Linked DNA regions of Homo sapiens. The protein of the gene in region 1 interacts with the protein of each later gene in a biochemical or structural test. Each region holds a gene or a part of one and is shown in the gene's direction. Other genes may lie near its edges. The genes, in order: FZD7, CCDC88C, DVL1 and SDCBP.

Region 1 (8,155 bases):
AGAGTCGATTGTTAAACATTTACCAGCATACCACTATAAAAAATTACAACCTCGGCCGGGCGCGGTGGCTCACGCCTGTAATCCCAGCACTTTGGGAGGCCGAGGCAGGCGGATCACGAGGTCAGGAGATCGAGACCATCCTGGCTAACACGGTGAAACCCCGTCTCTACTGAAAATACAAAAAATTAGCCGGGCGTGGTGGCGGGCACCTGTAATCCCAGCTACTTGGGAGGCTGAGGCAGGAGAATGGCGTGAACCCGGGAGGCGGAGCTTGCAGTGAGCAGAGATCGCGCCACTGCACTCCAGCCTGGGCGAAAGAGCAAGACTCTGTCTCAAAAAAAAAAAAAAAAAAAAAATTACAACCTCAGCAAAGAGCCAAAGCCCCAAAATATGCAGCTAACTTGGCCTTTTATTTGATCCCTAAGATTTGTATCCATATAACTAGACCAGGATTCTGCCCTGATGATTTTTTGCCTATGGATCACACAGCATTTCGTAAATATTACCTCACAAATTCTCCCAACATCCTGGGGGAGCAAGAGATGTTAAGTGACTTGCCTGAGGCAGGACAAGAAATCAATAGTGAAAGGCAGAACTAAACCAGTCTGTATCAACCACCTCTGCAATCCTTCCTAGACATCAGTACTGTGCAGACCCACATTGGAGACATGGGTAGCAATTACCAAAGGTGCTTTTTACATCATAACCCAGATACCCGAAGTCGCTTTCTACAGACTATGGTCCATATGCTCTGACCTTTGAGTACAGATTTGACTCCCCAGAATGGCCAGCGCTCTACATTTGGACATTTTTTCCAGAACTGTTCATGGTCTTTTATTAATCAACTTCCTCCATGTTTTCTCTCCCAGGGACATGTGTTTGGAAAACTGGTTGGCCAGAGTTAGGGTTCTGTTCTGACTCTAACATCTGCAAGTGGCAACATAACCAGTCAACACTGTATTTTTATCTGTGACCCTTTCTCTGGACTCCCCAAGGACAGAGCTCCAAGAGTCGTTTCTCTCTGTTGCCTCATCTTCATAATACTCTGGAAATGAATAAATGAATAATCCTTGTAGTAAGCAGCCTCTCAAATGGCTCCCTATGATCCCCCAATGGTTTTGCACACTCTATGTATAATCCCTGCTACCCCTTGAGTGTGGGAAGATCTGGTGACTTGCTTCTAGTGAATAGTATATGGCAAAAGTGGTAGGATGTCACTTCCCAGATTAGGTTACAGAAAGACTGTGACTTCTATCTTGATCGTCATTTTTTCCTGCTCTCTCTCTCTCCCTCCTTCTTTCCCTCCCTCTCTCAGAGGGAGAGACTCTCTGAGCCTTTGCTGTGAGGGAAGCAAGGTGCCATATTACGAGTGGCCTTATGAGAGGTCCACATTGCAAGGAACTGATGTCTCTGGCCAACAGCTAGTGACAGCCTGAGGCCTGCCAACAGCCACATGAGTGAGCTTGGAAGTGGCTCCTCCAATTGAGCCTTGAGGCCATCACAGCCCTGATCAACACCCTGATTATACAATAGTCAACGTATAAAACTCTCAACTAGCCCAGTGTGGTGACGCTCACCTGTAGTCCCAGCTTTTCTGGAAGCTGAGGTAGAAGGATCACTTAAGACCAGGAGTTCGAGGCTGCAGTGAGCTATGATCACTCTACCTCACTCCAGCCTGAGTGGCAGGGTGAGATTCTGTCTCAAAAAACAAAAACAGAAACACAAAAACCCCTCTCAATCGACAAGGGAAGTGTTGGTCAGACTCAGTGACTGAATTTACCATATAAATCATCTCTACAAGATGCGGCCTGCACATCTAACATGATTATTGCATGGTCCTCCTCTTCTGCAACTTAGATATCTCTAACTTTCATAACCCTTGAAAGGGTTTTAGGGATAAGAATATCCCCATTTTTGGAATGATCCAACACCCCAACAAAAATGAACACAAGTCAATGACAACCTGACAACTGGAAATTCCAAGTTCTCCATGTTATTACGTCAAAATTGTCTAGTAAAAGAGAGGCCAGAAAGGAAAGCATGTGCTAAAATTTGCCCTTTCTAGTCTTGCATGAGTAATTCTTGCAGCAGGAGCTTCATTACAACCGCAGGACTGGGGCACACGAAGACGGCCATTTTCAAATCTGGCCTGACATCAGAATGTAATTCAACTAGATAAACCTGGGACTTGGCCAAAATAAGTAGCATTTGCAAAACTGGAGCCAATGAATAGCATCACTTTTCTGTGGGACCATATGACTACATGTGAAGAAATAAAGGCCTTTGTTATTTTAAAGGGCAGGGACAATTGGAAATTTTGCAGCAGATAGTCACAAAATTTTCCACCCTTGGCTCTCCCAAGAAGATACCAGTTAGTGGCTTTGGGAGTTGGGTGTGGAAGGGGTTGCTTAGGAAGCAAAATTAAAATGATCCTGGACAGAATATAAACAGATGTCACTACATTTGTCATAGAACCTAAAACATGATTAGACCCTTACATTGTGAACTTACTTTTTCTGATCTTCTATGACTTGGCTCCTTAAAATCATAGCATTCTATACCAGGCAAGGCTTGGAAAGCCAGAGCTCCCCCTCTCACAGCAAATTCTTATTTTGGAGAATAATTTTGGATTGATTTTTTAAAAATCTTTAAAAACAAAACAATCTGTTTTAAAAATTGGCTTTGCTTCTCTGCTTTTTGGACTTGTCTGCCTGGGACAGAGCAAGAGGACTCACATCTGTAACACTTTCCATCTGGGATGGGTTTTCTGCATCTTAGGCATAGACTGCTTTTCATTCGTCCCTTGTATTTAAGGGTTTTTTTTTTCTAAATTATTATCCCTATTGCCTAACATCGGAGCTGTCTGGGGTTATAATATGGAGAGTAGAAGCTCATCAGCTAAATTGGTTTTAGTTGCAGTTGAGACAGTATTTTATCCTGTCAGTTTTCATTTTATTTGATGACAGTGCTTGGTATTTCTTCCTCAATAAGCAAAGATGACTTAGATCAGTGGCCTGATGAATAAGCATGAAATTTTGATTTAGAAAAGGAGGATATCCTGAAGCTCATGGAGAGAAAAAAGGAATCTAACCCCCCACCACACATACTTTAAATGACAAAGCAAAGCAGCAGCATTGTCTTTAAGCAACATATTTCAACCGAAGATCAACACTCCCCGATGTTAGGTAATAGAAATAATAATTTAGAAAGAAAAGGGGGGCCCTTTTAAAAACACAAAGAAGGAATGAAACATTTTTAAAGCAGGTATCGTATTACCTTCAGCACATGTCCCAAAGAAAAGGAAAAAAAGGGTGGGGGGGTCCGGGAGGGAGGGCGAAACTGATGCTTGGGAGGAAGAAGGCGACTCCCGCTGAGGGCCGGATGGAGGATGTGATCAGTCTAACACTCTGCCTTGGCCCAAAGGCTTCCTTCCGCCCTTTCGACCTATTAACAGGAGTGGGGAAGGACAAAGAACCGTGAATCGGAAAGAACGATTCCCAGCAATCTTCAGTGATCGAAAATAAATAAAGAAAAACAGAGAAAGCCAAAGTCTCCCATGGAAGGGAACCCAATTAATTGTCTTCGATTTCAGAATGAGTTTTTTTCCTGCTGTAGAAGAAGCGCACGGGAGGCAGCAGAGACAGCAACTTCTGCCAAGGTTCAACCTGATCAGAAATCGCTCAGAGCTCCAGCACCCGGGACTGAGGCAGAAGGGCTCCGCCAGGAATAACGTTTTTTAAAGCACAGGATTGCTGTGTGTGTGTGTGTGTGTGTGTGTGTGTGAGAGAGAGAGAGAGAGAGACAGAGGAAAGAGGAGGAGGAGGAGAGATTGATTGATTGATTTTTTTCTTTTCCTTCTCAACATGTCACTTTCCTGCATGGGAATTCCTGATATTCCTGGCAGCCCGGAGAGAGGGGAGAGGCCCCCTGGTGACTTATGACCCCCGCAGGAGTAACCAGAGAGCGCGCGCGAGCGCCCAGCGCCTGGCTCAAGACGAAGATTTAACCGAGAACAAAAGAACGTTTGCCAATCAGAAAACGCTACCCGAGAACGAGGATAACCCCGCTTTGTGTTTTGAAAACTCTTTAATTAGCCTGGTTTCTAAGACGCATTAAAACATTCCTACGCAGATTCTAAATGGAGGATCAAATGGTTGCTTCTGCAACGAAGATGGGATCCCGAAAGGGCACACGCCGCAGAACCAAGGCACACGGGGCCACTGAGACGCCCGGCGCGTCGTACAGAGTGTTCCTGGGCGCTCGGTCTCAGGTTACTTCTAGAACCAGTCTCCCCAACGCCGTCTTCGTTTCCTTAAAACCTCGCTAGAGTCACCCCAGTTCCCCAGACTCCAGGCCGTGCGCGCGGGCGGGGTGGCCTGAGCCCGGGTTCCCCGCTCTCCCTGCTTCGGGCCCTTCCTCCGAGGGGTCCTTCCTCCCGCCGTCACTCGGCCCCCTCCGCCCGACTCGGGTTTCTCCTCGGAGGCGGCCCCTCCTCCTTTTTATAACTCGGGGGAGGGGAGAGGGGACTGTGGCCTCGCGTGGACTCTTTGGGTCCGGGGGGAAAGAGGCGATCCGCAAGGCGCACCCCCTTCTCGTCCCGTCCCAAACCCCACATTGAGGACCCGGCGACCCGAAAGCCCCGCCAGAGCCAGCCTTTGCAGTCCTAACGCGACTCCTGGTCACGTCTCTCCCCGAAGGGGCGCTGCGCGGTCCTCGCTCCCCTCAAACGCCGCTGGCGAAGGCGCCCCTGCTCAGGAATGCGCATCTGAGTGCACCAGGAAGAGGAACAAATCTTTGAAGCAAATTCCCTTTCTGCGCGTTTTCGTCCCTGAGCGAATTCAGGGTAAAAGTTTTTCCGAACTTTTCCCTCCCAGTCCCCCGCCCCTCCCCTCAGGAATCCGCCCAGAGCGCCGCGGACACCGCCTCCGCCACTCCCGCGCCCGCCCCTTCCGACTTCCGCCCAATCCGAAGGCGGCCACCGAAAAAACAAAGGCCGCCATTGGGCCGCCGGGGCCTGGGGCCGCCCCCGGAGTGGTTTGTGAATGGGGGGGGAGGGGAGGGGAGGGGAGGGGACGGGAGGGGACGGGAGGGGGCGGGCCGGCCCGGAACCCCGCGAGCCCGACGCTTCTTCTGGCGACCAGCGCGACTCCGAGGCGTTAGTCGGCGCTCACTCCCGGCGGGCGGCGGCGGCGGCGGCGGCGGCGGGCGCCAGGACTCGCTGCTGGGGCTGCGAGGGGCTGGAGGGGCCGGGGCCAGGCCGCGGGCACGAGCGCCTCGCGGTTTCGGACGCAGTGTGACTGGGTTTCCAAAAAGAACTCGCCGTGCTCCCGACTCCGGGGCCGAGATCGGACTCAGCAAGAGCCGGCCGTTTGGCTGAAACTTGGGGCCGAGCTTTTGGGGCTGAAGAAGGAGCGGGGTGTGGAGGAGGAGGCGAAGGAGGCGGCGACGAGCGGAGCCTCGAGGCCAGGAGGCGGGGCAGCACCGCGGAGGCGGCGGCCGGGGCGAGCGAGCGGCGGCGGCAGGGGTTCTCCTAGCGGGGACCGGACCAGGCGCGGGGGGCGTGCGCGCTGCGGTGCGCCGGGGGTCCAGAGTCTTGGGCAAACTTTGAAGGGTGCCGGAGCCGCTTGTTGCTCCTCGCGGCGGAGGGAGCCGCACCGTTACGTCCCCGCGGGGAGAGCGAGGCGGCCCTCCTCGGCGCCCCCAACCCAGGCTGACGAGTTTTGGGCCCCCGGCGGCCCTGCGAGTGCAGGGCGGCGGCGTCTGCGGCGCCTTCGCGGCGCGGGCACCCAGGCGGCAGCGCCCTTTGCTCCACGCCGCCCACGGCCCGGCCCCGGCGCCGTGAGGACTCTCATGCGTCGGGCGCGGCGGCGCCTCCCCGCATCCAAGCCTCTCCCAACCGCCTCGTCGCACTCCTCAGGCTGAGAGCACCGCTGCACTCGCGGCCGGCGATGCGGGACCCCGGCGCGGCCGCTCCGCTTTCGTCCCTGGGCCTCTGTGCCCTGGTGCTGGCGCTGCTGGGCGCACTGTCCGCGGGCGCCGGGGCGCAGCCGTACCACGGAGAGAAGGGCATCTCCGTGCCGGACCACGGCTTCTGCCAGCCCATCTCCATCCCGCTGTGCACGGACATCGCCTACAACCAGACCATCCTGCCCAACCTGCTGGGCCACACGAACCAAGAGGACGCGGGCCTCGAGGTGCACCAGTTCTACCCGCTGGTGAAGGTGCAGTGTTCTCCCGAACTCCGCTTTTTCTTATGCTCCATGTATGCGCCCGTGTGCACCGTGCTCGATCAGGCCATCCCGCCGTGTCGTTCTCTGTGCGAGCGCGCCCGCCAGGGCTGCGAGGCGCTCATGAACAAGTTCGGCTTCCAGTGGCCCGAGCGGCTGCGCTGCGAGAACTTCCCGGTGCACGGTGCGGGCGAGATCTGCGTGGGCCAGAACACGTCGGACGGCTCCGGGGGCCCAGGCGGCGGCCCCACTGCCTACCCTACCGCGCCCTACCTGCCGGACCTGCCCTTCACCGCGCTGCCCCCGGGGGCCTCAGATGGCAGGGGGCGTCCCGCCTTCCCCTTCTCATGCCCCCGTCAGCTCAAGGTGCCCCCGTACCTGGGCTACCGCTTCCTGGGTGAGCGCGATTGTGGCGCCCCGTGCGAACCGGGCCGTGCCAACGGCCTGATGTACTTTAAGGAGGAGGAGAGGCGCTTCGCCCGCCTCTGGGTGGGCGTGTGGTCCGTGCTGTGCTGCGCCTCGACGCTCTTTACCGTTCTCACCTACCTGGTGGACATGCGGCGCTTCAGCTACCCAGAGCGGCCCATCATCTTCCTGTCGGGCTGCTACTTCATGGTGGCCGTGGCGCACGTGGCCGGCTTCCTTCTAGAGGACCGCGCCGTGTGCGTGGAGCGCTTCTCGGACGATGGCTACCGCACGGTGGCGCAGGGCACCAAGAAGGAGGGCTGCACCATCCTCTTCATGGTGCTCTACTTCTTCGGCATGGCCAGCTCCATCTGGTGGGTCATTCTGTCTCTCACTTGGTTCCTGGCGGCCGGCATGAAGTGGGGCCACGAGGCCATCGAGGCCAACTCGCAGTACTTCCACCTGGCCGCGTGGGCCGTGCCCGCCGTCAAGACCATCACTATCCTGGCCATGGGCCAGGTAGACGGGGACCTGCTGAGCGGGGTGTGCTACGTTGGCCTCTCCAGTGTGGACGCGCTGCGGGGCTTCGTGCTGGCGCCTCTGTTCGTCTACCTCTTCATAGGCACGTCCTTCTTGCTGGCCGGCTTCGTGTCCCTCTTCCGTATCCGCACCATCATGAAACACGACGGCACCAAGACCGAGAAGCTGGAGAAGCTCATGGTGCGCATCGGCGTCTTCAGCGTGCTCTACACAGTGCCCGCCACCATCGTCCTGGCCTGCTACTTCTACGAGCAGGCCTTCCGCGAGCACTGGGAGCGCACCTGGCTCCTGCAGACGTGCAAGAGCTATGCCGTGCCCTGCCCGCCCGGCCACTTCCCGCCCATGAGCCCCGACTTCACCGTCTTCATGATCAAGTACCTGATGACCATGATCGTCGGCATCACCACTGGCTTCTGGATCTGGTCGGGCAAGACCCTGCAGTCGTGGCGCCGCTTCTACCACAGACTTAGCCACAGCAGCAAGGGGGAGACTGCGGTATGAGCCCCGGCCCCTCCCCACCTTTCCCACCCCAGCCCTCTTGCAAGAGGAGAGGCACGGTAGGGAAAAGAACTGCTGGGTGGGGGCCTGTTTCTGTAACTTTCTCCCCCTCTACTGAGAAGTGACCTGGAAGTGAGAAGTTCTTTGCAGATTTGGGGCGAGGGGTGATTTGGAAAAGAAGACCTGGGTGGAAAGCGGTTTGGATGAAAAGATTTCAGGCAAAGACTTGCAGGAAGATGATGATAACGGCGATGTGAATCGTCAAAGGTACGGGCCAGCTTGTGCCTAATAGAAGGTTGAGACCAGCAGAGACTGCTGTGAGTTTCTCCCGGCTCCGAGGCTGAACGGGGACTGTGAGCGATCCCCCTGCTGCAGGGCGAGTGGCCTGTCCAGACCCCTGTGAGGCCCCGGGAAAGGTACAGCCCTGTCTGCGGTGGCTGCTTTGTTGGAAAGAGGGAGGGCCTCCTGCGGTGTGCTTGTCAAGC
Region 2 (7,765 bases), on another chromosome or scaffold:
AGACTCTGTCTCAAAAATAAATAAATAAATAAATAAATAAAGTAAATAAAAGAACGTTCCAAAATGTCAGATCTGTGACAGAATATAAAACTATCATAGAATATAGTATTTTGTGGCCAGCCATAGTGGCTCACACCTGTAATCTCAGCACTTTGTGAGGCCGAGGCGGGCAGATCACCTGAGGTCAGGAGTTTGAGAACCGCCTGGCCAACATGGCGAAACCTTGTCTCTACTAAAAATACAAAAATTAGCTCGGCATGGTAGTGAGCTGAGATAGCTTGACCCCTGGGAGACAGAGGTTGCAGTGAGCCAAGATTGCGCCACTGCACTCCAGCCTGGGTGACAGAGCAAGACTCAGTCTCGAAAAAAAAAAAAAATAGCCATTCCCTCTCCCCACCCCAAGTTGTAGTAACAATTTAAGCTCCTGCTCCTATCAGGTGAAGTAGAAATGCCATTAGCTAACACTGCTGAGTCAGTATTTTCTGAGAGGGTAGAAAATTCCTTTATCAGAAGAACACAAAATACTGCTTCTACCCAGGAAGCAATGTATTAAGCAATAGATACATTTATATCCAGAGATTAACAAGGAAAAACTTAAAAATAAAGAGTTAAGGCTCAGATGGATGGAGTGAAAGCCAAGGGTGTTCTGGAAGGATGGAGGAGGGGCATTGGGACTCTCTGTGTAGTGGTCAGTGGAGGGTCTGTGCATTTGCTCCTTGAAGCTTATGCCCCAGCCCGACGGAGACTTCGGGGAAACAATTTTTATTAAAGCAAGGGTAGCAGAATGGGGCAGGAGATGAGGAAGAGACAGTGATTATGTATCTCTATAAAGCTTTATGGCTTCCACAATCTTTTTACATGCATCACCTTGAGCTTTAATATTGTCTTGTCAAGTCACATGGGGAAAATGGTCTTATCTTGATTTTGCAGATTAAGTGACTTCTAGGAGGAAACTTGTCCAGGCCAAACTTGTCCCGTCCTTTGAAGCCTTCCAAGCTTGCTACACCTGGGGCACCATCCAGTTTGCCTGCCCCATTGCCTCCTAGGGAACAAGGGAGCTGAGTTAGATCCTTTTAATCCTGGTGGCGTAGTCAAGCCAAGGCATGGTAGCAGATACATCAATGATTATGAACCAACACAGCAGCTAACTGACCCCAAAGCAAACATTCCTGACATGGCTGTGGCCCAGGGCCTTGTCAATGTCCCCAGGGGAAAATTCCCTCACCAGGATGGGAAAAGTCTCACAACTGTCAGAAGGCATTTGTCCACTGTATTTCTTAGTGTGAAAGAATAAGCTTACTCAATAAATTTTTTTTTTTGAGACAGAGTCTTGCTCTGTCACCCAGGCTGGAGTGCAATGGTGCAATAGCAGCTCACTGCAACCTTCCCCTCCCGGGTTCGAGTGATTCTCAGCCTCCAGAGTAGCTGGGATCACAGGTGTGCACCACCACACCCAGCTAATTTTTCTATTTTTTTTGGCCAGGCTGGTCTTGAACTCTTGGGCTGAAGTGATCCACCTACTTAGGCCTCCCAAAGTGCTGGGATTACAGGTGTGAGGCACTGCACCCGGCCTCAATAAATAACTTTAAAGATTCCTCATCCTTGTCTTTCCAAAAAAATTGGAAAAACAACTTTGGCCGCATCTGCATCCCTTACTTTTCAGAAGAGAGGCTTCCGAGCGAAGAGCGGTGTGTGTACACATCATACCTATTTTTGAACTAACTTACATTATGAGCAATTAAGGAACTTTTTTAAATAAAAGATTTTTAGCCGGGCGCGGTGGCTCACGCCTGTAATCCCAGCACTTTGGGAGGCCGAGGCAGGCGGATCACGAGGTCAGGAGATAGAGACCATCCTGGCTAACACGGTGAAACCCCGTCTCTAGTAAAAAATACAAAAAATTAGCCGGGCGTGGTGGTGGGCGCCTGCAGTCCCAACTACTCTGGAGGCTGAGGCAGGAGAATGGCGCGAACCCGGGAGGCGGAGTTGCAGTGAGCAGAGAGCACGCCACTGCACTCCAGCCTGGGCAACAGAGTGAGACTCTGTTGTCTCAAAAAAAAAAAAAAAAAAAAAAAAGAGAAAAGAAAAAAAGATTTTTATTTCAGATAAAATTAATATTTCCATAATTAGGATACACACATAATTAGCAAACACACATTCTTGAGTCCATTATTTAAGGTTTATTCTATAAACGACTTCCATGAGTATTAGAGATCCTGAATGTCATCTGAATATTTGTCTACACACTTGTGGGCAGCTTCTGTAGACTTTTCTTTGTAGAAATTCCAGTTTTTCTGAATTCTTCCTTTTCCTTCAGGTTTTCCACTTTGCATTATTCATAAAAGGCTGGGTCATTATAGTGAGCTGTTAAGACATTCTTTCAATGCAGAATTTTCTTTCCAGCATTTTACTACCATAAGGATTCCAGAGTTCTTGCAACATTTGGTAAAATCTTGAACTTGTCAGAAGACCTCTCTCTGGCCTTTTCTCTCATTATTTTAGGGATCAAAACATCTTTTTCGACACGTCTGAGCTGCTGCTCCAAAAACCTGTAGTGTCTTCCCATTGTTTTTGGTATAAAAATCAAACTCCTTGAAATGGTTTACAGGACATTTCATGATTCACAACTGAAACTCCTCCACAGCGATGGCACACACTCCTCTTTGATCTCAATTCTTCTTTCTTGTGGTCTTTGCTTAAACCACTGTTCTTTAAATTTCACAGAGCAACCATCAGAGTTGTTAAATTAATCCGCGGGGTCGAGTGCCATCGCGGCGGGCGGAGAAGCAATTAAGGAACTTCTCTAATGAACTTCTGGTGCACAACAAAACCATGTAGTCTCGAAATTTTAGTTCCTCCGCAGTCCCCCATTGTGTTTTATGCTACCCCGCCTTCCACAGTCTCTAGGGACCCCTAACCGACCCCCTTGGCTCTCAGGCCATAATCTCACAACCCTCCCCAGCCCAACGGGGTCCGCCAGCGCTGGGCTGTAATACCACTCGCCACCAGCAGATGCCGCAGCCCCAACGCTGCACAGAGCCAACTTTCAAAATTACCACCGAGCCTGTCGGCAGCCATTTAGTGCCTGCTGTATACTTGCCAAGCGCCACGCAGGGCCCTTCGGGTCAACCCTGTACCAGTTGGCCCAGCTGCGAAATGCGGCGATCGTTAGGGTTAAATTAGTAAAATGGTCTACAGTGCTTTGAACAATGACCGGCTGGTGGTGTGAAATTATTACCAGGCCGAGACCAGCCTGGAGCCGGCTCCTGCCTCGTGCCGTCCCGCAAGGAGGTCCTGCCCCCGGGCTTGCCTTCCAGCCAGTTGGGGCCTTTGCCCTTTTTCCTGTCGCCTGCCACTAAGCTGCTGCTAGGAACCCCGGCTGGAATTTAGCTCGCCTCCGGCAAAGTGGTGGGGGCGGGCCCGGGTCGGGGAGGCCACATCACCTGCTTCCTGCAGGAACTTTTAGAAGGCAGGCAGCCCGGAACATGGCACGGTGGGGCACGGTAGGGCGCGAGGGGCCGCGCCCCTAAGGCCTAAACTCAACATAAAGTTTCTTCTTTGCCCTCCAGCCCAGCCCCAGGGTCGGGGCGCGTTTATCGCGCCGCGCACAAGCGTGAGGAGCGGGGGTTTGCGGGGCCTCTTGACTGTACCTGGGGCTGCACCTGCCAGGAGTGCGGAAAGGCGCAGGGCCGAGGTCCCCAAGCCCAGAGCGGGCGGCAGCTGCGGGCGACCTCGGAGGGCAGAGCAACCTCGGAGGGCAGGGCGTCCCCGCTCCCGGCACGCACCAGTGCCCGCGCACCCCAGCTCGCACGTGGCGCTCGGGCCCCGGCTGCACGCGCACGCGCGCAGGGATGCGCCACGTGCTGGGGCCCCACACGCGGGGAGGCTGCGCTCGGCGAGGGCGCGCGGTCCCACGGGCGGGGAGCCGGGCCCCGCGACCCACCCGCCTCGGGCCACCAGTCCCCTCCCAGCGCCCCGCGTAGCCTGGTCCCGCGCCCGGGCTCCCGGGCTCCCGGGCTGGCACCGCGAGGCGGCGCGCCGGTCGCCCAGGGCCGCCGAGGGGCGGGGCCGCCCGTATTGTTCCTCCCCGAGCGGCTGGCCCTCCCCTTCCCCCAGACCCGGGCGGGGCGCGGGGCCGCCGAAGCCGCGGAACGTGGGCTCGCGCGCCCCGCCTTTGTCTCCCGGGCGCGAGCCGCCGCAGCCCCGCGCCCGCTGCTCGCTGCGGAGCCGTTTTGTGCCGCGGCGCGGGGGAACGGGGACGCGGGGCGGGGGGCGCGGAGCCGGCGGGCGCAGCCTCAGCATGGACGTGACAGTCTCGGAGCTCCTGGAGCTCTTCCTGCAGAGCCCGCTGGTGACCTGGGTGAGTGCGCCTGGCTCCCCGCCCCTTTGTTGGTGCACCGGCTTCTCTCTAGCCCGGCGACGGGACGCCGCAGACCCGACACGGCCGGGGCCCCGGGTGGCTCCGGGGCGCGAGGGACGCAGCAAGTGGCTCCCGGCCGGGGTTGGGGCCGCGTCCTGGAGTCCGGAGCTTTGTAACTCTGGAGCCGGCGCCCCCGTTGTGCGTCCGGCGCGGGACCCCGCCGCGCTTTCGGCCGGGCCAGGAGCCGGGCGGGTACACCTGTTCCCGCTGGGGCTCTAGGCTGGCTGCCTCGGGGCGGACCGGGTCCCAGTGGTCACTCCTGTCCCTGGGGTTTAGCCACTCCCGAAAAGGACCCCATTCTTCCCAACCAAATATCTCATGTAGTTTTTCTGAATCCCTGAGACCAGCCGGTGGATGGCGGTGACGGGTGGGGAATGGGGGGCGCCGAATGGGAAAGCGAACAGACTGGGGTGGGCGCACTGATTTACAATGGATTTGAGACGTGAGACATTTATTGAAAAGTCCTTTTTATTTTTATTTCTTCCGCTCTGGAACGCGGGAGAAAAGTGGCGAGGAAGTTTTTCCTCCTGTCTCGTGTCTGTTGCCCCGCGCGGGGAGGGGAGACAGGCCCTAGGAGAAGGCCGGGCTTGGTGCCTGCTGAAGGGTGGTGTGGGCGTGGGTGACCCCCTTCTGCTCACACTGACCCGTCCAGTCTCTGCCTGGGAGAGCTTTGGACCGTTTGTGCGCACGGGGTGACTTCCTGTCTTTCTCTCCTCGTCCCCCTCCCCGCAGGTGAAAACTTTTGGCCCGTTTGGAAGCGGCAGCCAGGACAACCTGACTATGTACATGGATTTAGTGGACGGCATCTTTTTGAACCAAATTATGCTGCAAATGTAAGTTACCTTCTTCTCGGAGGAAGGAAAGAATGGTGCGTTAGAAAGTTTGAGAGTAGAAATGGAGTGGAAGGTTGCATGGCGGGGTGTGTGTGGGGTGGGGGGTAGTTCTCTGAAGGTGGAGACGCTGGTATCTCAGTATTAACGTGCCTGTTGGACATTCGTAGGTGTTTGAAGAACTCCAGGACAGTGGGTCTGGCAGTTGGTTTGATGAAGGAAATTTGGAATTGAATGACTGTCATTTACGTGGTGTAGATAGTGCAATTGACTTCAGACTCAAGGACTTAATTGTGGTTTGAGCAATGAAATGAAAAAGTCCCCTTTTGGAGGGCAAGGAACTGTAACGGAGAGTGTCTGGTTACAGGAAGTGTCGGGGTGGGCCCAGGCATCCGAGGGTTACTGTAAAGTTTCATTTTAGATGAGGGTGTCTGTGTTTCTGAGCTCCTTTACATTTCATCTTCCTTTTTCAGTTGCCCCAAAGCAAGTGCAATTCATTAAGTCCTACTGTATGGACTGAGTTTAAAGTCACAGTGTTAGGAGGGTCCCATGGTGCTGTTTGTTTGGAAGCATGCAGCCTGAACAGGGTCTTAGTAGAAGTTACTCTTGCCAGCGAGTACATCTGACCACATCCTTTCCTGTTGCTGAGCTCTGCACGGCCTGATTGACAGCTTGCCACAACGTAGGTGTTGGCTTCTACCTTTGCATTCTGTTTTTAACTCAAACTGCAGGGAACATTGGAACTGAGTGTCGGGATGATTCACAGGCACTTGAAGCAAAATAAAACATCCTAATGTTCTCTGTGGATCAGCCTCGTGTGCGCACCTATTCACCTACGACTGAGCAAGTTGTCATACTGGAGCATAAATCTATTAGCTAATGAGAGATCAGCTTCGTTTGTGGCTCACAAAGGCAGAGGAGCAGTTTGCTTTGGCATATCCAGAAAGTGGCTTATATAGATTGCCTTAAACAGCCTGTTTAGAAAAAAATAATTCAAGAACCTTGCTTTTTTTTTTTTTGGAGACGGAGTTTCGCTCTTGTTGCCCAGGCTGGAGTGCAATGGCGTGATCTCAGCTCACCACAACCTCCGCCTCCCGGGTTCAAGCGATTATCCTACCTCAGCCTCCCGAGTAGCTGGGATTGCAGGCATGCGCCACCACGCCCGGCTAATTTTGTATTTTTAGTAGAAATGGGGTTTCTCCATGTTAGGCTGGTCTCGAACTCCCGACCTCAGGTGATCCGCCTGCCTTGGCCTCCCAAAGTGCTGGGATTACAGGCATGAGCCACTGTGGTGCCCGGCCTCCTTTTATTTTAATAAGTCATTTGATGTCATGCTGTTTAATGGTTTTTGCTTTTTTTTTTTTAAAGTTCACAGCTGTGGGTGTAGGAAAAAAAGTCACTACCAATCTTACCAGTCTTCAGTGTCTGATTAGATTGAAAAACATAAATCTGTTGCCAGCTTTGACAGCACTTCTTAGATAACTTTGTTGAAACTGAGTTTTCCGGAAGCTGTCTCGTGGCATATTCGAGTTCTGGCCACTCTCCCCTCATTCTGTTAGACCCTGAAAATTACTGGATTCCATTGGCGCAATGACCGGTGAAACTTCAACCTGTCCTTACCCAAGCCCAAGACTGTTTAATTAAAAAAACCAGCAGTATCCCCAGCCTTTTCATTCAGCTCCTACACCCAGGCAGAGGGGGGAACAAAAGCACTGGGACTGTTTCTCTTTCTTCCCTGACCTTTGGAATTCCTGAAGCGTTTCCCACTTGCTTGTAAATCAGGAAAGCCTGTTGGACCGTTCCTTTGAGAAACGCCAGCTCATCACTTGTTCTCATTTGGCCCATGGCTAAATTCGGCCGGGGTGGTGTGGGGTGGGAGGGTTTCTCCCCTTCCCTGGGCAATTTTAGATGTTCTCTCTGTGATATGCCAAGGTAATCATTCCAGAAGTGGGAACTGGTAAATTGTAGCTCTTAAGACTTCAAGAAGTGCTTCTGGGTCCCTCAGGATGAGTTGGGCACAGAGGAATGGAGCGTGGGGAGGCTGAATGGCTGGCTTTCCAGAATGAGGAAAGAGAAGAGAGAGCGGGTGGGCATGGTTTCCTGCATGGGTCATCAGAATCACCCAGTTCCAGGTGATAGAAGTCAGAATAGTGTTTTTGTGTCTGGAAGTGGTGAGGATTGACTGGAAAGGACCCGGGGGAACCTTTTCAGGGTAGTTGAAATGTCCTGCAGAGTGGCTGGAGTATGTTTCATTTTCCAAAACTCCTCAAATTATAACTTTATGCATTTCATGCTATGTAAAATTACCTCAACTAAACAATGAACCCTGGCCTGTATCGGACAGCCTACATAGCCAGCTGGGATTCAAACCCTTGGCCTCCCTTTTACCAGCAGTGTGACACTGGGCATGTCGCTCAGTGCCTTAGTTTCCTCATCTGTAAAATGGGACGTAAAGTACCTTCCTTAAGAGATGGTTGTGAGGACAGAATGAAACCTTGTGTTAACATTTAGCTAT
Region 3 (8,186 bases), on another chromosome or scaffold:
GAGGGCACAGGCGCGGCTCCCAGTCCCGGGCTGGGAAGTGCATCCTGGGAGCGGGGACCTCAGCCTCCTCTCCTCCCACAGATTACAAAAACAACATCCTGAAGGAGAGGGCGGAGCTGGCCCACAGCCCCCTGCCTGCCAAGTACATCGACCTAGACAAAGGTGAGCGGCGGGGGCGACCTCAGCCCATCTCAGAGCCCTGCCTGTCCCCATTCCACCTCACCTGGGACCAACGATGGCAGGCACCAGCCAGGCCCGGGGCCCCTGCCACCTCAGGCTCAGAAATCCCTGGGGAGTCCTGCGGGGGGGTCTGCCCTGTGTCTCCCACTGTGATGAGGGTGGAGGACAGCCGCCAACCCGTTGGCGCCCTTGGCTTCCAGGGTTCCGGAAGGAGAACTGCAAATAGGGAGGCCCTGGGCTCCTGGCTGGGCCAGCAGCTGCACCTCTCCTGTCTGTGCTCCTCGGGGCATCTCCTGATGCTCCGGGGCTCACCCCCCTTCCAGCGGCTGGTCCCGCTTTCCTGGAATTTGGCCTGGGCGTATGCAGAGGCCGCCTCCACACCCCTCTCCCAGGGGCTTGGTGGCAGCATAGCCCCCACCCCTGCGGCCTTTGCTCACGGGTGGCCCTGCCCACCCCTGGCACAACCAAAATCCCACTGATGCCCATCATGCCCTCAGACCCTTCTGGGCTCTGCCCGCTGGGGGCCTGAAGACATTCCTGGAGGACACTCCCATCAGAACCTGGCAGCCCCAAAACTGGGGTCAGCCTCAGGGCAGGAGTCCCACTCCTCCAGGGCTCTGCTCGTCGGGGGCTGGGAGATGTTCCTGGAGGAGGACACTCCCATCAGAACTTGGCAGCCTTGAAGTTGGGGTCAGCCTCGGCAGGAGTCCCACTCCTCCTGGGGTGCTGCCTGCCACCGAGAGCTCCCCCACCTGTACCACCATGTGGGACTCCAGGCACCATCTGTTCTCCCCAGGGACCTGCTGACTTGAATGCCAGCCCTTGCTCCTCTGTGTTGCTTTGGGCCACCTGGGGCTGCACCCCTTGCCCTTTCTCTGCCCCATCCCTACCCTAGCCTTGCTCTCAGCCACCTTGATAGTCACTGGGCTCCCTGTGACTTCTGACCCTGACACCCCTCCCTTGGACTCTGCCTGGGCTGGAGTCTAGGGCTGGGGCTACATTTGGCTTCTGTACTGGCTGAGGACAGGGGAGGGAGTGAAGTTGGTTTGGGGTGGCCTGTGTTGCCACTCTCAGCACCCCACATTTGCATCTGCTGGTGGACCTGCCACCATCACAATAAAGTCCCCATCTGATTTTTAGACTTGTCCCAGGTATGCTTCTGAAACTCCGTCTCCTGGGGCTGGGCAAGGCATGAGTCTGGGCCTGGGAGTCCTCGTCTCCACCTGGAACCCCTGACATCATCCCATTCCTTGGGCTGAAAGGTCTGGGTCTGGGTCCTCTGGGAGTCGGTGTCCTGGGAAGGGGACCTTTGAGCTAGTTCTGTGTGGCTTCTGGTCGTGGAGGAGTTCAGATTCCCTTGAGGGCTGACCTGGACGTGAGGAGGGGGGACGTGGTGGTGGCTGTGAGGCCAGAGGGAAGGCCGTGGGAGCACAGCTCTTGGAGAGGCAGAGGGACGAGGAGCGGGAGTAGTGGGATGCGGGTCAGACACTTGCAAAGGGGGCGGGAGCAAAGAGGCTCCAGCAGAGACAGCCCGGGACAGCAGGGTGGTTCCAAGAGTCTTGGCCAGGCCAGCACGGATCTGGCCCTAGAATCCTTTCCCGCTCAGGCATCAGCTGGTTGGGTGCAGGATCTCAGCACAAGTTCAGGCGGTGGGAGGAGTGGCGGGAGCAGGAAGGCCCGTGGCCCGGGGTCCTGGCAGCACAGACCAGCGACTAACTGCTGCTTCTTGAAGCTGGCGTCACCACCCAACCCCATCCTCCAGTCCTCCCAGGACAGTGGGGGTGGGAAAGGGTGACAGTTGCCCACAAGGACCCCACACAAGCATGGATGGGGAGGGAGGGAGGCTGGTCTGGGGAGGTGTGGCTTGAAGATGCACCCCCCTCCCAGCCCGGTTACCTCTGGCCTCACCAGTGGCCACACCTGTCAGGGCCCCAGCTGGACCACATCCGCGTCAGCAACGGGACTGGCCTCAGGCCTCTGGCTTCCAGCCTCTCTTGAGACCTAGCCTGGGGTCAGGCCCTCAGGGCAGGGACAGGCTTCCTCCCTCCCTGGGGCCTCAACAGATAGCCCCTCTTAGGTCTTCCTGCCTGGCTTCTGACCTCTGGGGAAGAGAAGGGCTGCGGGAAGGTGGAGGGGGCTGGCGGCTAAGCTGTCCGGGCTTGGCTGAGCAAACGCCACAGTTCTCCCTCTCAGAGCCCGGGTGCAGGGTCAGGATCCCAGGCCCAAGCTGACCGTCAAGCACTGGTGCCTGCACTGATCGGTTTCTTTCCGAGCCGGTGCAGCCCCCAGCACGGTCAGGGCCCGATAGATGCCAGTTCCATCTCGCCGGCTTCCTGGGGACGGGAACCAAGGGACCCCACCGCACTCTCTTCCCCATCGCTCCAGCCCCGTCCAGGCCCCCTCCTCACTCCCCCCGTCGCTCCTGCCCCGTCCAGGCCCCCTCCTCACTCCCCCCGTCGCTCCTGCCCCGTCCAGGCCCCCTCCTCACTCCCCCCGTCGCTCCTGCCCCGTCCAGGCCCCCTCCTCACTCCCCCCGTCGCTCCTGCCCGGTCCAGGCCCCCTCCTCACTCCCCCCGTCGCTCCTGCCCCGTCCAGGCCCCCTCCTCACTCCCCCCGTCGCTCCTGCCCCGTCCAGGCCCCCTCCTCACTCCCCCCGTCGCTCCAGCCCCGTCCAGGCCCCCTCCTCACTCCCCCCGTCGCTCCTGCCCCGTCCAGGCCCCCTCCTCACTCCCCCCGTCGCTCCTGCCCCGTCCAGGCCCCCTCCTCACTCCCCCCGTCGCTCCTGCCCGGTCCAGGCCCCCTCCTCACTCCCCCCGTCGCTCCTGCCCGGTCCAGGCCCCCTCCTCACTCCCCCCGTCGCTCCTGCCCCGTCCAGGCCCCCTCCTCACTCCCCCCGTCGCTCCTGCCCCGTCCAGGCCCCCTCCTCACTCCCCCCGTCGCTCCTGCCCCGTCCAGGCCCCCTCCTCACTCCCCCCGTCGCTCCTGCCCCGTCCAGGCCCCCTCCTCACTCCCCCCGTCGCTCCTGCCCGGTCCAGGCCCCCTCCTCACTCCCCCCGTCGCTCCTGCCCCGTCCAGGCCCCCTCCTCACTCCCCCCGTCGCTCCTGCCCCGTCCAGGCCCCCTCCTCACTCCCCCCGTCGCTCCTGCCCCGTCCAGGCCCCCTCCTCACTCCCCCCGTCGCTCCTGCCCCGTCCAGGCCCCCTCCTCACTCCCCCCGTCGCTCCTGCCCCGTCCAGGCCCCCTCCTCACTCCCCCCGTCGCTCCTGCCCCGTCCAGGCCCCCTCCTCACTCCCCCCGTCGCTCCTGCCCCGTCCAGGCCCCCTCCTCACTCCCCCCGTCGCTCCTGCCCCGTCCAGGCCCCCTCCTCACTCCCCCCGTCGCTCCTGCCCGGTCCAGGCCCCCTCCTCACTCCCCCCGTCGCTCCTGCCCGGTCCAGGCCCCCTCCTCACTCCCCCCGTCGCTCCAGCCCCGTCCAGGCCCCCTCCTCACTCCCCCCGTCGCTCCTGCCCCGTCCAGGCCCCCTCCTCACTCCCCCCGTCGCTCCTGCCCCGTCCAGGCCCCCTCCTCACTCCCCCCGTCGCTCCTGCCCCGTCCAGGCCCCCTCCTCACTCCCCCCGTCGCTCCTGCCCCGTCCAGGCCCCCTCCTCACTCCCCCCGTCGCTCCTGCCCCGTCCAGGCCCCCTCCTCACTCCCCCCGTCGCTCCTGCCCCGTCCAGGCCCCCTCCTCACTCCCCCCGTCGCTCCTGCCCCGTCCAGGCCCCCTCCTCACTCCCCCCGTCGCTCCTGCCCCGTCCAGGCCCCCTCCTCACTCCCCCCGTCGCTCCTGCCCCGTCCAGGCCCCCTCCTCACTCCTCCCATCCTGGGCCGCCCTCTAGTGGCCTCCGCGCTTCCTGCTGGGGTCGGGTCGGGAAGGCCTCCAGCCCCGCGAGCCCCGGAACAGTAAGCGCGGACGCCCCGCGGCCTCAAGGGACGCCTCGGAAGTCTCCCCTGCCCTGCGGAGAACCCCAGGACTAAATCCCTCCCGCCGCCGGGCGCTCCGACGCCTCCGTGCACGCCCGCGCCCCCGCGCGCCCCGCATCCGCTCGGCCTGCTGCCTGGACCCCGTGGGACCCGGCAGAGGGCACGCGAGTCGGGAGCCTTCGCGGTGGCGCAGAGCGACCGGGCGCCACCTCAGCGCCGCGCACCCGGCGTCCCCGGGGTCCCTCCGCCCGACCCGAGCGCCCCGGCGCCCACGGGCCCACAGCCAGCGGCGCGCGTCGCATGCGCCGGATCATAATGGAGCGCGGGCCCGCGCGCGGGGGCGGGGCCGGGGCGGGGCGGGGCGAGCGATGATCGCCTGCGTCTGCGCATCCTCGCCCCGCCCCCGCCGTGCGCCCCCGTGACGTCAACGCCGCGCGCTCGGGCGCCCCCCCGCGGCCACGCTCAGGACCCCGGGCCGGGCGGTCCCTTTAACGGCGCGGCCCGAGGGGCGCAGGCGGGAGGGCGGCGGGGCTGAGCGCGCCCTCCGTGCTGCGTCCCTCGCGCCGCTCCCGGGCCGGGGGCGGATGGGCGGCCGCGGGCCGCGGGGCAGCAGTCGGGACGCGCGCGGGAGCCGGGGGCGGCGGCCGGGGCCTGGGCGGTCGGGCGGGGGCGCCCGGGGGCCTCGGAGCGTCGGGGCCGAGAGCGGTGCGGGCCGGGCGGGGCGCAGGCGGGCGGGCGGGTAGCGCCCCGCGTCCGAGCCCCGGGCCGGGCCCTGAGCGCGCGGGCTCCGCGCCGCCGCCGCGCCATGGCGGAGACCAAGATTATCTACCACATGGACGAGGAGGAGACGCCGTACCTGGTCAAGCTGCCCGTGGCCCCCGAGCGCGTCACGCTGGCCGACTTCAAGAACGTGCTCAGCAACCGGCCCGTGCACGCCTACAAATTCTTCTTTAAGTCCATGGACCAGGACTTCGGGTCAGTCGGCCGCGAGGCCTGCGCGAGCCTGGCGCGGGCTCGGGGGTCGCACCTGCCCGCGCGGGGACGGGGCGGGGGTCCTGAGCCGTTCGCGCCCCCGGGGACCTGCGACCGCGACGCGCCTCCGCTAGATGCGGCGCGGGTGGCGGCCTCGGCCCGTGTGCGGCGCGCGCCCACCTGTCCGTGGAGCGGGGCGATGGCAGGCGGGGTTCCCGGCGTCCCTGGCCCCAGCTTCCCGGCCCCGAGTCCTGCCTTGGCCCGTGTCAGACTCGGTCGGCCGCATCGCTTCCACCGGGGCTGGCCGGGAGCGCCTGCCGTTGGTGCGGGCTGGGGTCAGGGGCGTGTCAGTGGGAAGGAAGCAGGGTGGGGTTCCCTAGCTGGGATGGGGAGACATGGGGGTACAGGTTCACCAACCTGTCTGCTAGGGTTTGCAGAAGCTTCCCGAGGGTCAAGACAGGTTCTCCTGGCCCCCTTCTGCAGGGTCCTTGTGACAGGGTGGAGGTCAAGGGCCACTGGTGACCATGAAACTTTATTCGCCTACCCGTGTCCTGAGCTTCCTGTGGGCCCCGTCCCCACTGAGCCACAAAGCACTTGCGTTCCCGGAGCAGCCCAGACCATCTGCTGTTTCGGGGCAGCCTGGGTCAGCGTCTCCCTGCTGGGCCTCGGTGGTGGTGTCCCAGGCGAGGAGACCCCTGCTGTGCTGAGCTGGGCCCTCTGGGACAGGGAGCAGGAGCCTGGCGGTCTGCTTGAGGCCTGGCCTGGCCCGGCCCAGCCACCAGTAACCTGAGTCCCTAGTCCCAGCTCAACAGTGCTGGGGGCGGGCTCAGGCCTCGTGGCCCCAGGAGGTGAGCCTCCGGCAAGCGGTGTCCTTGTGTGTGGCCGCTTCTTGGGATTGTGACATTAAGGTTGTTTCTTGGATTCTGTGGTTGCAGGGTCCTCAGGCAGCCCCAGGTCCAGTCAGGCTGGGTCCGCTCTGGAGCTCTCAGGGGGGCCCAAGGGACATCTAGACAGCTGTACTTTCCTTCCCCACCCCCACGACCAGGCAAAGCAGAGAGGGCAGGGTGCGTCCTTGGCAGCCTTTGAAGGCTGGGCGCTCCCCACTCGGCTCAGCGGCCCTCCTGCCCGCTCCGGTCAGGTTGGGCAGGAGGGGGCGGTTTGTTTTCTGAGTCTGGTCCGGGCTCCTCCCCAGCTGGGGCACCTTGCAGTCCCTGCTTCTCTGGGCCTGGGCTGCTTTGGCCTTGAGCATGGGGCATGTGTCAGGTACTTTTGTTTTTGACTTAGTTTATTATTCTAACGAAAGTTACCAAAGTTACTAATGCTGTTTGTTGCAAATGTGTGCCACCAGGAAATGCGTAGTGAGGAGGTGCCCAGCCCCCAGGTTCTGCTCCTGGACCATGCTCTGGGATGAAGCCCTGGGGGAGTCCGCCTTCTGCTCCTGACACCCACCGGGGGCTGCCCAGGGCAGAGACAGCCTGACTGTTGCCCTAGTGCACTTCTAGCAGTGGCTGCACCTGCTGGGCACATTTGGAGGACGCGTGGGTGCCCGGGCCTGGGAACAGGGTGGGCAGGTCTGGGTGTCGAGGCAGGCTTGGGGATGCGGCCAGGAAAGAGACAGGGGAGCTTCAGTGTACAGCTTTGGAGGCTGCAGACTTACAGGGGGCTGGGAGTCAGTGGGGCTGCAGAGGTCAGGGCTGGGCTGGGCTGGGCTGTGGGGGTTGGAAAGAATGGACTGGGGTGATGCTGGAGGTCCAAGACGAGGGCCTTGCTCTGTAGCCTCCCAGGTCCTCTGGCTGGGATGGGGGCCTTGCTCTGTGTCCTCCCTGGTCCTCTGGCTGGTGGCCTCAGGAGCCTACGGAGGACCCTCATCAATTACTTCCTTCATCCCTTCCCCTGAGTTCTACCCGCAGACCTCTCAGCACTGTCTGTTCTGTGGAATAGAACCCCCGTGGGAGGGGCTGGTTGGTCAGTAATACTTTAGCTTAAGCGACTGCTGAACTAGACACTGACCCTGGATGCCAAGCGAATGTAGTTGGAGATGGGGGGAAGAGAAGGCAGGTCCTCGCTGGTCTGGGGTGGCCTTCATAAGAGAGGGAGCTTCAGGCTGGGGACGCTGAGGAGGCCCTGGTGAGTCGGGGGTTCCTGCGCCAGCCCCCGCTGCATTCTCAGCCCAGCCCTGGTTCCCCAGCCTCTGCTCCAGAGCATGACTGACCACCTTGCAGTGCAGGGAGCCTGTGTCATGGCCACAACCACGTGCCCTGGTCTGGACCCCACTCCCCACGCACGGCTTTGGCCCAGTGGGTGAAGGTCCCCCGCCTGTCCTCCACTTTTCATGCCCTGGTCACAGCTATTCTGACCCAAGATCCCCAGGGCTGGGAGGAGGGCAGAATTGGGGAGGGTCTCTGCCTGGTGCTGGGTTTGGTGGTTGGCAGGGGGTCTCGCCCAGCCTTGGGCCGAGGCAGAGGAGGGAGGGTGTTTGGCTCCGGGTCCCCACTGCTGGGTGCGTGGCGGATGCTGGGCCTGCTGGACTTGGCACCGAGGCTGTCTGTTGGGCACAGCTCCCACAGTTCATCTCCGAGGTGGGGGTGACCCAGGCCTGGGACTGGGGGATGGGTGGAGGCAAGGCTGTGGGCCCAAAGCCCTGGTCCCCAGGGCCGCCTGCCATGGGCCTCGGTGTTGTGACAGCTCCTTGTGTCCTGGGTGGTGCTGTGGGGAGCTATGGAGTTGGGGAGGCTCTGCCTGGCCTGGGCTGTGGGGGGAGTTCCCACTCCGCCCTCCCTGGCTGTGCCACTTGGGGTCTGTGACTCAGCCTCTCTGTGCCCTGAGTGCCTCCCTGGTTTTGGGAGGGTCCAGGCAGTTCACCTACTGCACTCATAGCCATGGCCTAGCAGGGACACTTGAGCCTGTGTGTCCTGAACCGGGGGAGGGGCACAGAGAGATCCCAGGACTCGGCACCACCCAGGGGACAGGCTGGTGGAGAGCCCCTGGCTCTGGGGTCAGGGGTTGGGAGGCCACAGACCCCCAAGGCTGAGGGCCCTGACCTGGGGCGTGCACAGGGGGCTCTGAGGGCACAGG
Region 4 (7,595 bases), on another chromosome or scaffold:
TAAATTGTGTTTCTAGACCTCATGTATGAGCCATCTGGAATGCTTACTATCTGGGTCCAATGGACACTTTATTTTTTCATTTTTTAGTTTTTTTTTTTTTTAGAGATGGAATCTTGCTCAGGCTGGTCTTGAACTCCTGGGCTGAAGCAGTCCTCCTGTCTCAGCCTCTGAAAGTGCTAGGATTACAGGCATGAGCCATACGGTTCCTGGCCTGATAATTTTATTTTTTACATTTTTCATTCATTTTATGAATAGTTTGCAGAAGTGAAATTAAAGACATAATGAAACACAACTTTACTAGAAATTTTAATAACTGCTTCAACAAATTATCACTCCAAATTTTCCTGGTTTTGAAGATATCAGTAGTTGAAATAGGCAACATCTTCGAATTCAACTAATTGCTTATCAACTGTCATATAATTTTTTAAAAAAATCAATGATTCTGCCGTCCTAAATTTTTATTATCCCAAGATGTTTTTAATACAGCGGTTCCCGACATTTTTGGCACCAGGGACTGGTTTCATGGAAGACAGTTTTTCCACGGACGGGATAGGTGGATGGCTTCAGGATGAAACTATATCACGAGGAGCGTTTAACCTAGATCCCTTGCATGCACAATTCACAATAGGGTTCCTGCTCCTGTGAGAATCTAATGCTGCCACTGATCTGACAGGAGCTGGAGCTCAGGTGGTAATGCTGGCTCACCTGCCACTCACCTGCTGTGGGTGGCCTGGTTCCCAATGGGCCACCGACTGGTACTGGTCCATGGCCCGGGGGTTGGGAACTCCTGTTTTAATAGCTTAGATTAAAAGAAGCAAATAAACATTATTTCACCTTAAACAGTCACATGTCATTTTTAAGGGAGGCCAGTTGTAGTTGGTGGTTTGAGAAGGGGTGAGGTTAATAACTCAGAAAATGATGAGTATTGCCATTCTAGGTGATATTATTTGGAAAACTTTGCCAGTGTTTCCTACTTCATTAATCAGAATATTGTGTCCAGAGAGCGAATAAACTAGAATTCCAAAATATCACATAAGTATTTAAGTTGAGGGCCTTCGTTCTGTACACATATTTAAAGACTTCAAGGAGGTTACTCTTATATTGCCCTGAGGGGGTTGAGGGACAAATGGGAAACTTGGTACTGAGGCAGACAATATATAAATACATATATATATAAAATGTATGTATTATATATAACATATATAATACATATATATTATAATACGTATAATACGTATTATAATATATTCTAATTATATATAATATATATTATTTATGAATAATATATAATGATTTATATATTATATATAACATAATATATATTGTATATCATACTATTATACTATATCTTATATACTATATTATAAGTATATAAGATATACTTATTATATACTATATTATATAGTATAGTATAGTATAATTTATACCATATATTATATATTATACTATTATATACAATATAGTATATATTATATACAATATTATAATATATAATTATAATGTATATTATAATATAATATAGTATTATTATATATTAATATTATATTATTTATATATTCCAGGAAAATGATATTAATTTTAATCAATATTTATATTTAAATATTTATATTTAAAATATTTATATTTAGATATTTATATTTAATTATATATAAATATAAAATATATAAATATAAATATATAAAATATATAGATATATAAAAATATATAAATATAAAAATATTTATATTTAAAATATAATAATATAATGTAATATAATATATATTATATATAATACATATAATACATATTATATAATACATATTATATATGTTATATATAATACATATGCACACACACACATATATAATATATATATAGCCTTTTGGTGTTCTGAAAAAGTCCGAAACTATCCCACCCACTGAAAGATCTCTTAATAGAAACTATTTGTGAGTTACTTCTGAGGCCTGAGATACATTGGGTGTAGGGGCCTTTCATAATGCATGAAGTGAGTCACAGAGATTGCAAATAATGTAGTGTGGGCCAAACCTGGTCAAAGGGTATGTGGGCAGTACCATTTCTTTCCAAGGAATTAGGCCAGTGGAAAAAAGCTGTAGTGGTCAGGAAGGTTTGATCAAACCCTTAAAGAGTAGTGGGAGTTTTATCTTCTTAGTGATTACTCAGCTCGAAGGAAAGCCTAGAAACAAAATTCTTTAGTTTAGTTCGTACAATAATAATGTTTGATAAGAGTTGCAAGTGAGGTAAAATGAGATTCTTCCACTGATGTAATAGTTACTTTCAGAATCCTCTTAAACCTCATTATTGGTCATTATAAAATTCCAGCCACAATTAGAAGGATTTCCCAGAGTTAGCTTTGTGGTTCTTGAAAAAGGGCTGTGTTTCTAACAGTTCCCATTAGGTCAAAGATTTAAATATAATGTACAAGTGACTTAATGGAGCCCTTCAGAAAAATAAAGCATTTATCATTTTCCTGGAAGGCTTTTTACACTGTTAGGTTCAAAAGTACGGACTTGCCCTAAGAATATTTTGATCTTTTCAATAAGTGTTTAAAGATATCTTATTTACTGTTGTTTTGATGACATTTGTCAAAATACTAACATTTGGTATCTTCTTTTTAAAAAGTTTTTTTTATTGGTGAGACAGGGTCTCAGTCTGTCCACCCAGGTTAGAATGTGGTGGTGTGACCACAGCTCACTGCAGCCTCAACCTCCTTTGCTCAAGTGGTCCTCCTACCTCAGCCTCCCAAGTAGCTAGGACTACAGGCATGTGCTGCTGTCCCTGGCTAGTTTTTTATATTTTTTGTAGAGATGGGGTTTCTCCATGTTGCCCAAGCTGGTCGCAAACTCCTGGGCTCAAGTGATCCACCTACCTTTTTCTCCCAAACTGTTGGGATTACAGGCACTGCGCCCAGCTACATTTGATATCTTTGAGGATGAGGAAAAAGTGTTTATGCTGTGTAAATAAACTAAATTGAGTCCTGCCTTCAAGTAGTGGAGATAAACATGTACTAGCTATAATCTGAGGCAGAGTTGAGAGGAGTTGGGAGGAGCAAATAATATCCAACTGAAGCCTTCAAAGTCACCCTCTTTTAAGAAGTGACACTTGACCTATGCCTCAAGGCTAACTAGGATTTTGATTGGTGGAGAAGTCCTGGAAGGACATTCCTGGAAGAGAATGCACCTTTTACAAAAATATGCAGGCATGGAAGCATGTGACCTGGGTGGCAAATAGTCAGTGGTTTGCAGCTACAACATTTTAATACGTGGAAAGAAATTTAATGAAATGGGTCAAGAAAGTAAAATTGAGGAATGCTTTGTGATTTAAAAAACAGTGAGAGTTAATTAAGATCAGTACACTTAAAGCAAACCTGAAACTTACTTTTTCAGAAGTGTAAATTACGGTAATATTTGTTATTTAAAAAAAATTTTGAAAGTCCATTTTTCTTCTAGGCTTGAGTTGCTGGTGTGTGAATTAACTCAAGAGTTGTTCAGACAACTTCAGTTAATATTTATTTGAAGAGAAACTTCTATGGAGAGAAAAGTTAGGAAACCACTTCATTTTTCATGAGAACAGTGGGATTTTGAAGTTAGCCAATGACAGAATCAAAAAAAGAAATCAAAAATAGAAATAATATTAGATGGCCAGGTAACATTCTTTTCAGTGCATTTTGGTTGTTGATATTGCAACTTGCTTTGCATTTTGTATATTATATATCATATGCATTTTGTTTATATTGATAGAATGGCTGAAAGTTTAAATAAGGCAAAAAATTGTGTTTAGGGAAAGGCTGCTAGGAAATTGATCCTTTGAACCCAAAGAAGATAATTCACTTTGTTCTCCTGGATTAATACAATTAAATCATATTTGATAGTGCTCTCTCAAGAATGTGAATTTTTTTTTTTTTCTCACAAACCCAGATTCTGTTTTTCCCTTAAGGACTGTACCAGGCCACTACTATTCACCATTGTACTGGAGATTATAGCCAGAGAAATTAGAAAAGAAACAAAAGATGTGTAATAGCAGCAAGAAGGTGCAATAGAAAGCTCATATGCTTCTTCTCCCCACAGAAATACTGATTCAATAACAATACACACACCAGACCTCTTTGTGAGAAATCCGGAAACTAGTTAAGAGGCTCCTGCATTCTAGGTGAGCAGTAAACCAGCTGCAGTGAAGATGGTAGGAAAATTCATCCTACTTGCTCACCATAGTTCATTCCCCTGGCTCAGCATGGCATGAGCAAGAGGAAACTCCAGGCTCCTGGTTTTTCCCTGGGCGGGGAAAGAGAAGACTGAAACATCTGTGTGACATTCAGATTTTTCAGAGGTCTGCCCAAGGGTCTGGTTTTTATTTTGCTTGAATATAAGTTCTGACAGGAAAGGGCACCAGGTTGCGGGGTCATTGAAAACAAAGTTGACAGTTTAGATTAGCAGGCACTCACCATGGTCCCTCCCCCTCCCTCAGCATGAAACCAGCAGGAGAAAATCCTCAACTCTTGGCTTCTCCTTGGGGAGACAAAAGAGTTGGAATGTGTGTCCAGTGTTTCACCTTTTCAGTGGGCTGAGGGACTGGCTTCTGTCTTGCTTGTCTTGGAAAGCTGACAGGGGCTGGTGTATTCCAGGTGCCCAGGAGCCACTGAGAACAGAAGACTTGTTGCTGCTCTAGAGGACCTATGGTAGGGCAGACAGAGGATGATACAGCTCAGCAGCTTGTCCCTACGTGTGGCATGAAAGGTGTTGGAGAGAGAATAGTGGAGTATGTGTCCAACATTCCAGCACTTCAGAGAGCTACCCCCAAGGGACTGGCTTCTGTTTCACCTGACTTGGAGCACAGGCAGGAGTGGACATACTCTAAAAGCCCACTGATGGGAAAGGGCACCAGGTTGGAGGCCTCTGAAAACAAGAGAGCTGGGTGGCTTGCAGCAGCTCCAGAGAACCTGAAGTACCACAGACAGATAGCACAGGGAGCAAAAGATTATGAGATCCTGAAAAAGGAAACGAACAAGTTCATCTTGAGAATTTATACACACTGGTCGAGAAGAAGCATCCTCAGGAAAGGTTCAAAAGGCATGCAGAATCTCTAGTCAGGCCGATCAGTGAGGATCTTTCTCTGTACAGAGCCAGACCACAAAGACTGGGAGGGGTGATATTTTTTCAAATGCTTGGATCCCAACATGATGTTAAAAGACACACAAAGAAATAGGGAAACATGGCACAATCAAAGAGTCAAAATATCCAGGAACCTACTTTAAGGAAACACAGATATCTTCATTATCTCAGAAGGAATTCAGACTAACCACCATAAACATGTTCAGTGACCCAAGGAAAATGCTGCATGAACAAAATGGTATCAACATAGAGATTGAAAACGTAAAAAGGAACCAAACAAACATTGTAACAGATGCAATATGCTTCTTTGACCAAATTGAAAGATTTACTAGAGGAGTTTAGCAGCAGTGTTTTTCAAGGAGAAGAATTAGTGAACTTGAAGCCAGGTCATTTGAAATTATCCAGTCAGAGAAGCAAAAAGAAAAAAAATAAAAAAAGAATGAAGACAGCCTAGAGTACTAATGGGACAGCATCAATTTTATCAATGTAGATTGTATGGAAGTTCCATATGTTGGAAAGAGAAAGGAGCAAAAAGCTTATTTGAAGAAATACTGGCCAAAACTTCCCAAACTGAAGGAAGGCAGTGGACATCCAGATTCAAGAAGCCAAATGGACTCCAGAGTAGAACAATCCGAAGACATCTACATGGAAACACACTGTAATCAAATTGTCAAAGAATTTTGAAAGCAGCAGGATAAGAACAACTTGTCATATACAAAGGAGATTCTGTGGGACTCTAAGTGGATTTCTTAGCAGAAACCTTGCAGGTCAGAAAGAAGTGGGATGATATAGTCAAACTGCTGGAAGAAAAACTGCCAGCAAAGTACTGTATGTGGCAAAACTTTTCTTTAAAAGTAAAAGAGAAATAAGATTCTCAAAATCTGAGAGAGTTCATCACCACTATATCTGACTTAAACGCCAATGGGAGTCTGTTAAATGGAAACAAAAGTATGTTCAACATGAAAGTATAAAATTAAATGATAAAGCTATGGACAAATAGAGACCTGCATATTATTGTAATGGTGGTGAGTAAATCACTTATTTCTGATATATAAGTCTAAGACAAAAGTTTAAGTGCCTGTAACTATAAAAATATTAATAGATGCACAACATAAAAGATGAAATTTGTAGCATCAGTAATGCAGTATGGGGATGGATGAGAAGAAGCAGTATTGTATGCAGTTGAAATTATCAGCTTAAAATAGGTTTATTAGAAGATGTTTTATGTAAACTCCATGGTAACCACAAAGAAAATACCTATAGAAAATACACACACACAAATAAGGAATCAAAGCATATCTATTAAAAAAAAAAACAGTGAAACAAAAAGCATGATGGCAAGAGAGGAAAGGAAGGACAAAAAAGTTTCAAGATAGAAAATCATTAACAAAATGTCATTGTAAGTCCTTCCCTATCAGTAATAACTTTAAATGTACTAAACTCTCCAATCAAAAGACATAGAGGGGATGAATGGATTAAAAAAATAAAACCAAGAGCCAGCTATACCCAGTTTATAAGAGACTCACTTCAGATTTAAGGATACTTTTTATTTTTTTACAGAAATGGATATACTGATTCTAAAACTGATACTGAATTGATAGGGATTTAGAATAGCCAAAACAATTTCGAAAAAGAACAAAGTGGGAGGATTCACATTAACTGATTTTAAAACTTAATACAAATGTACAGTACTCAAGAATGTGTGGTACTGGTATAAGGATAGACATATAGATCAGTGAAATAGAATTGAGATTGCAGAAATAAGTGCATACAGTTATGATCACTTTTCAATAACGATGCGAAGACAATTCAAAAATGTTATTTTCAAAAAATGGTGCTGAAATAACTGGGTTTCCACATGGATAATAATGAATATGGATCTATACCACACACCGTGTACAAAATTAACATAAAATAGATCAAAGATATAAATGCAGGAATTAAAGACATAACATTTTTTGAAGAAAACATAAGGGTAAGTCTTCATAACCTTGAGTTGGGCAGTAGTTTCTTAGATGTTATATCTAAAGCATAAGCAACCAAGAAGAAATATAGATTCAAATTTGTCAGAATTAAAAACCTCATATTGCAAAATGCACTGTGAGAAAAAATGAAAAGACAATCTACAGAATAAGAAAAGTATTTGTAAATCATATATGATAGTGGTCTATGATATGGTCTGAATGTTTGTGACTGTGTCCCTCCATTCATATGTTGAATCCTGTAATCATCAAGGGGATGGTATTAGAGTTACCATATGACCCAGCAGTTGCATGCTTAGCTATATTCCAAGAGAATTAAAGATGCATTTATTAAAAAAGTATATAAACTTACATATTATTTGCTAACAATGCAAATGCTCATTGGCATTTTTAACAGCATTATTTATAATAGCCAAAAGTGCAAATAACCCAAATGTCATCAGCTGATGACAGCATAAATATAATGTGGTATACATACAATGGAATATTATTCTGCTATGAAAATGAA

The links.
Region 2: the proteins of FZD7 (region 1) and CCDC88C form a complex in vitro, tested with the Homo sapiens proteins (one study listed by BioGRID).
Region 3: the proteins of FZD7 (region 1) and DVL1 form a complex in vitro, tested with the Homo sapiens proteins (2 studies listed by BioGRID and IntAct, with this or other methods).
Region 4: the proteins of FZD7 (region 1) and SDCBP interact in a biophysical measurement, tested with the Homo sapiens proteins (2 studies listed by IntAct, with this or other methods).

What each region holds. Positions count from the first base shown.
Region 1 is NC_000002.12:202,028,700-202,036,854, forward strand, and holds the start of FZD7 (frizzled-7 precursor), read left to right. Parts: upstream 1-5,155; 5' UTR 5,156-5,948; coding exon 5,949-7,673; 3' UTR 7,674-8,155. UniProt on the Homo sapiens protein: Receptor for Wnt proteins.
Region 2 is NC_000014.9:91,414,226-91,421,990, reverse strand, and holds the start of CCDC88C (protein Daple), read left to right. Parts: upstream 1-4,170; 5' UTR 4,171-4,300; coding exon 4,301-4,360; intron 4,361-4,388; exon of another isoform or gene 4,389-4,612; intron 4,613-5,152; coding exon 5,153-5,253; intron 5,254-7,765. UniProt on the Homo sapiens protein: Required for activation of guanine nucleotide-binding proteins (G-proteins) during non-canonical Wnt signaling. Binds to ligand-activated Wnt receptor FZD7, displacing DVL1 from the FZD7 receptor and leading to inhibition of canonical Wnt signaling.
Region 3 is NC_000001.11:1,345,824-1,354,009, reverse strand, and holds the start of DVL1 (segment polarity protein dishevelled homolog DVL-1), read left to right. Parts: upstream 1-4,591; 5' UTR 4,592-4,944; coding exon 4,945-5,114; intron 5,115-8,186. Other genes in the region: MXRA8 (matrix remodeling-associated protein 8 isoform 1 precursor), read left to right, coding at 64-162, 678-709. UniProt on the Homo sapiens protein: Participates in Wnt signaling by binding to the cytoplasmic C-terminus of frizzled family members and transducing the Wnt signal to down-stream effectors. Plays a role both in canonical and non-canonical Wnt signaling.
Region 4 is NC_000008.11:58,555,666-58,563,260, forward strand, and holds part of SDCBP (syntenin-1), read left to right. Parts: intron 1-4,618; exon of another isoform or gene 4,619-6,082; coding exon of another isoform or gene 6,083-6,130; intron 6,131-7,595. UniProt on the Homo sapiens protein: Multifunctional adapter protein involved in diverse array of functions including trafficking of transmembrane proteins, neuro and immunomodulation, exosome biogenesis, and tumorigenesis.